Regions from separate parts of the Homo sapiens genome. Here region 2 is linked to region 1. Evidence: fine-mapped expression QTL. A gene starts in region 1. The other region holds a variant in brackets. All regions are shown on one strand. Distances are from middle to middle.

Evidence for each region. PIP is the estimated chance that this variant, and not a neighbour inherited with it, causes the effect.
Region 2: its variant is the best candidate, but not a certain one, in a credible set for the expression of FAM187A in whole blood (TOPMed, PIP 0.85).

What each region holds. Positions count from the first base shown.
Region 1 is chr17:44,902,072-44,904,953 of GRCh38, forward strand. FAM187A (family with sequence similarity 187 member A) reads left to right here and starts at 1,362. Exons shown (of 1, transcript NM_001258400.2): 1 at 1,362-2,882. The coding sequence starts at 1,759. DNAAF19 (dynein axonemal assembly factor 19) reads left to right here. Exons shown (of 4, transcript NM_213607.3): 4 at 294-2,882. The coding sequence ends at 746. GFAP (glial fibrillary acidic protein) reads right to left here. Exons shown (of 9, transcript NM_002055.5): 9 at 1,088-2,882.
Region 2 is chr17:44,875,118-44,878,021 of GRCh38, forward strand. EFTUD2 (elongation factor Tu GTP binding domain containing 2) reads right to left here. Exons shown (of 28, transcript NM_004247.4): 10 at 817-983. Among named protein-coding and RNA genes, the nearest start is that of EFTUD2, 23 kb to the right of the region's middle. The variant G/A (reference allele first, on the strand shown) is at 1,532.

The sequences.
Region 1 (2,882 bases):
ACAGTAAACCCTGACTTACTCTTGAAGACCAGAGCTATGTCTCCATTCATGAGTAGGAAAATTCCAGTATAAATGAGAATCTCAAATCATGGCGTGGATTCCTTGGGGCCCTCCCTGTTTCATCCCCAGTTTCCTCATCTGAAAATGAGGCCGCCAAGGACCACAGCTTTCCCAGTGCTCAGACAGTAGTGAGATGAAGACAGTAAGATGAAGAGCTACAGGCTCCCCTCCCTGTCACTGTTGCAGAACAGCTGGAAGAGCTCCTGACTCCCTTTCCTTCCTTTGTGGTCCAGGAGAAAGCCCCCCTCCAGCCCGAGACGTCTGCTGACTTCTATCGTGATTGGCGACGACACTTGCCAAGTGGGCCAGAGCGCTACCAGGCTCTACTGCAGCTTGGGGGTCCAAGGCTCGGCTGCCTCTTCCAGACAGATGTGGGATTTGGACTTCTTGGGGAGCTGCTGGTGGCACTGGCTGATCACGTGGGGCCGGCTGACCGGGCAGCGGTGCTGGGGATCCTATGCAGCCTGGCGAGCACTGGGCGCTTCACCCTGAACCTAAGCCTGCTGAGCCGGGCAGAGAGAGAGAGCTGCAAGGGCTTGTTTCAGAAGCTGCAAGCCATGGGCAACCCCAGATCCGTGAAGGAGGGGCTCAGCTGGGAGGAGCAGGGTCTGGAGGAGCAGTCTGGTGGGCTCCAGGAGGAGGAGAGGCTCCTGCAGGAGCTGCTGGAGCTGTACCAGGTTGACTGATGCGGCAAGCTACCCTCAGAGGTCCCAGTGGTCACTGGAGGCAGTTTTTTGGTTGTTGTCTTGGGGGTTCTGCAGGACCATAATAAGAAACCCACACCTGGTTCCCTTCTCAACTTGGAATTTTCAGAGCAAAAACAGGAATCAAGTCTTCCCCACTTCTCCAGTCCCTCAGTGTCTCGCTGTTTTGAACTGTGTGTATCCATGGACAGTCAAGAGCTCAGGAAGTTGAGAGCGGTTTTGTTTCCCACCCTTAGAGTCTGCCAAGCCTCTAGCCCACTGGCCTTGAGAGATGAGTGTGTGCCCAACCAAATGCTGGCTATACCAGTTACAGCCTCCACTCATAAAAGGGAAAAAGCAAAATCTTTATGGTAAACAAACACTGATCTCCACAGCTCTTAACAAGAATGTTTATAGCCCCAAACCAATGAATGGACATGTAATCAACAAATGATCAAATACTACATCATTTGAGGTGTTGAATTTTCCCCTAGAGACTCAGTTCTTGTGCAGGTTGGGCCTGGGAAAGTCCCAAGCCATCAGCTCAGGTCCAGCCAGCCTCCCGGATGGCCAGATATGCAGGAGGGTGGGTTTCCTTCATCCCCCAGGTTGATGAAAGACTTTTCCACCAGGCTGGCAGGGCAGGGCCTGGAGCACTGAGGCAGAGATCTCCCTGCCCGAGCACCTCGGCCCGCCCTTCTCATTCCGGTTTCCTTTGACCCATTCTTGGGTGAGCGCCAGTGTTCTAGAAAGGGGAGTAAAGGCCAGGTTCTAGAATGGCTTTCCCCCCCCACCCTGAGATCAGGTCTGGAATGTTAGAAGGGCATCTTGTACATCCACTGGGAATAAATTGCCTTGCACTTGGCGGCTTCCTCTGCAGATTGTTGCTGCTTTTCCTGGCTGCATAATCCTTTCCTCATCTAGAGGCTTCCGCTTAGCAGAGCTTTCTAGGAGCCCTATGAGCCTTTAATGCCCTGGTTTTGCCCTGCCCCTCTGACCCCTGCCTCCTTCAGGTATGCACCTGGCCCTCACCACTGTGCTCCTGTGGGCATGGGGGCTCCAGGCCTTTGAAATTGTGGAGAAGGAAAACATTTTTCAGAGGACCCCCTGCCCTGCTTTCCTGATGTTTGAAAATGCAGCCTACCTGGCCGACATGAGCTTTGAGCTTCCCTGTCACTGCAAACCCGAAGAGGTGCCAGCTGTAGTCTGGTTCTACCAAAAGCACCTAGGTAGCAGCCACACCAAAGTGCTGACGGACTTTGATGGGCGGGTGCTGACGGAGGCAGCCCAGGTACGTGTGGGCAGCGACATGCTGACCCGCTTCAGCATCCGCATGTTCAGCTTGTTGGTTTTCAGGGCTCAGTCTGAGGACTCAGGCCTGTACTTCTGCGGCACCCGCAAGGGGGACTACTTTTACGCCTACGATGTGGACATCCAGAACAGTGAGGGAATGGTGGCCACTTTCCAGGACAAGGGCCAGGAGCCCTTTGCAGATGAATACTATGGGCACCTCCATGTCTTCACCACCTTCTGGGAATGGACCCCCTGTGACCGCTGCGGAGTGCGTGGGGAGCAGTGGCGCATCGGCCTCTGCTACCTGCAGAGCCCAGACCTCTCCCCACGCTACCTCAAGGCCGTGCCCGATGTGGTGTCTTGTGGCTCAAGGGCTGTGCCAAGGAAGCTGCGGACCAAGGCCAGGGACCACACGCCTGAGGTGCTGGTTCGGAGCTGCTTAGTACCCTGTGAGAAGACAAAGACCATCCGGGAGGGCGTGCTGGCCATCATTAACTATGTGTCCAAAGTGGGCAGCCGGCCCTGGGTGCCCCAGGTGCCCATTCAGTTCCACCAGCAGAGACTGGGCCATGGACTCATCATCTCCTGTCCTGGGGCCCGGCCAGAGCATGCAGTGGCCTGGGACAAAGACCGCCAGCACCTCTACCGCACACAGTACCTGAAGGGTGTCAACAGGTCCATGAGGGTGTTCATTGACCACGGCAACCAGCTCCACATCCGCTTCACCCAGCTGGATGACCGGGGCATCTACTATTGCTGGAGGCAGGGTGTGCTAGTTGCTGGCTTCCGGCTGGGTGTGACATCTCATGGGCACTACCCAGCCTCGTTCTCAGATCCTGAGACTCG
Region 2 (2,904 bases), 27 kb before region 1:
CACTTTGGAAGGCCAAGGTGGAAGAATTGCTTGAGGCCAGTTTAAGACCAGCCTGGGCAACATAGCAAGACTCCATCTCTACAAAAAAAATATAAATAAATAAAAAATAAAAATTAAAATTAAAAAAAATTGGCCGGGGGTGGTGGTTCACGCCTGTAATCCCAGCACTTTGGGAGGCCGAGGTGGGCGGATCACGAGCTCAGAAGGTCAAGACCAACCTGGCTAACACAGTGAAACCCTGTCTCTACTAAAAATACAAAAAATTAGCCGGGCGTGGTGACGGGTGCCTGTAGTCCCGGCTACTTGAGAGGCTGAGGCAGGAGAATGGCATGAACCCGGGAGGCGGAGCTTGCAGTGAGCCGAGATCATGCCACTGCACTCCAGCCTGGGCGACAGAGCGAGACTCCGTCTCAAAAAAAAATAAATTAATTAATTTAAAAAATATATAGCCAGGTATGGTGGCACATGCCTGTGGTCCCAGCTATCAGGAGACTGAGGTGGGAGGATTGCTTGAGCCCAGAAGTTCGAGGCTGCAGTGAGCTGTGATTGTGACACTGCACTCTAGCTTGGGTAACAGAGATCCTATCTCTAAAAAGAGAAGAAATTAATACAGCCCAAGTACTGATCATAATAGTAAAATGAAGATGTGTTAAAGTATGAAGTCAACCCCTGCAGAGTCCCAGGATGTGCCTCTAGTTTTGCCCAACAAACTCATCAACACACGCTTAGAAATAAATCACAGTTGTTCCCAGAGGTATTCAGGGTTAAAACCCAGAGCCTCCGAGGACAGGAAATCCACTCCCAGGGGTTTTCTACCTTATTAATCCATTGACCTCATCCACAATGTGGCGCAGCTTGTAATAAGCATCAGTTGGAGGCAGCTTCAGCTCCAGGATCAGCCGGTCAATCTTGTTGATGCACACAGTGACTGCCAGCCTCTCCTGCACCGCATGCTTGATCAGCCGCTCTGTGTTCAGCATCACCTGAGAAAAACAAGGCTCAGAAGGTGGTAAGAAGAACAAGGAGGGCAGAAAGTTCAAAGCAGAACCAAAGAAGGCACTATTTCAAACCATGAAGCCTGGGGAGAAAAAAAGACCTCGGGAAATATTACTGGGTGGAAGCAGAGAGCATCCTGCCCGAAGATAGACACAGGAACTTTAAGAGGGCACCTTGCAGGATTGAGAAATGAATAAACCCATGAACAATGATGTTGGGAGCCAGGTTTCTCAGTGCTAAAGAAGGAACTAAGAAGGCTGGGAAGAGCCAGTGGTGCTGAAATGGAATTGGGGGTATTAGGATTAATGCATGATTTTTAATATATGTGTGTAGAAATAGTTATAGATATGTATGAGTGTATATAACCTAGCTGTGCTCAGTGAGAGGGCCTAGAAGCAATGTACCCCAGTAGCAATGAGCACATCCAAACCTTTGTTTCTAAATACTAATCCCCACTGGCCGGGCACAGTGGCTCATGCCTGTAATTCCAGCACTTTGGGAGGCTGAGGTGGGCGAATCACGAGGTCAGGAGATC[G/A]AGACCATCCTGGCTAACACGGTGAAACCCTGTCTCGACTAAAAATACAAAAAGATGAGCTGGGCGTGGTGGCAGGCACCTGTAGTCCCAGCTACTTGGGAGGCTGAGGCAGGAGAATGGCGTGAACCCGGGAGGCAGAGCTTGCAGTGAGCCAAGATCGCACCACTGCACTCCAGCCTGCTGGGCGACAGAGTGAGACTCCGTCTCAAAAAAAAAAAAAAAAAAAAAAAAAACTACTCCCCACTATGAGCCAGAGCTGCTAGGCTAGGTGCAGTCACTCACACCTGTAATCCCAGCATTTTGGGGAGGCCAAGGCAGGAGGATTGCTTGAAGCCAGAAGTTCAAGACCATCCCCGGCAACAGAGCGAGACCCCATCTCTCAAAAAAATATTTAAAAATAAGCTGGGCATGTTGGCACATACCTGTAGTCCCAGCTATTTGGGAGGCTGAAGTGAGTGAATCACTTGAGCCCAGGAGCTCGAGGCTGCTGTGAGGTATAATTGTACCATTGCACTCCAGCCTGGGCCAGAGGGCAAGATGCCATCTCTTTGAAGGAAAAAAAAAAAGCCAGAGCTCCTTGAAGAAATGGCTGAGTCCAGGATTGGGACAAGGAAAGATAACGTCTAGAACATCTTTTTGTGCTTGAAAGTAAGGAAGTGCTCAAAAAACGATGAGGCGTGAAAAAGATGATGGAATCAGCCTGAAGGAGCTCTCAGTAGCCAAATCTGGGACAAGAGCACTAGAGCACCGGAATCCATAAGGACAGTAACAGATTATAACTCACTGAATAAAATGCAAACCCAAATATCCACAGTGATAATAAGCAAATGGGGGAGAAACAAAAGCACTTCTTTACAACATAATTCCAACCAATAGGCCAGGCGCAGTGGCTCATGCCTGTAATCCCAGCACTTTGGGAGGCCGAGGCAGGTGGACTACTTGAGGTCAGGAGTTCAAGACCAGCCTGACCGACATGGTGAAACCCCATTTCTACAAAAAATTCAAAAATTAGCCAGGTGTGGTGGCAGGCGCCTGTAGTCCCAGCTGCCTGGGAGGCTGAGGCAGGAGAATCACTTGAACCTGGGAGGCAGAGGTTGCAGTGAGCCAAGATTGCGCCACTGCACTCCAGCCTGGGCGGAAGAGCAAGACTCCATCTCAAAAAAACAAAACAACAACAACAACAACAACAACAAACAACAATGGCTGGAAGCGGTGGCTCACGCCTGTAATCTCCACACTTTGGGAGGCCTAGGTGGGCAGATCACTTGAGGTCAGGAGTTCGAGACCAGCCTGGCCAACATGGTGAATGAAACCCTGTCTCTACTAAAAATACAAAAATTATCCAGGTGTGGTGGCGTGCACCTGTAATCTCA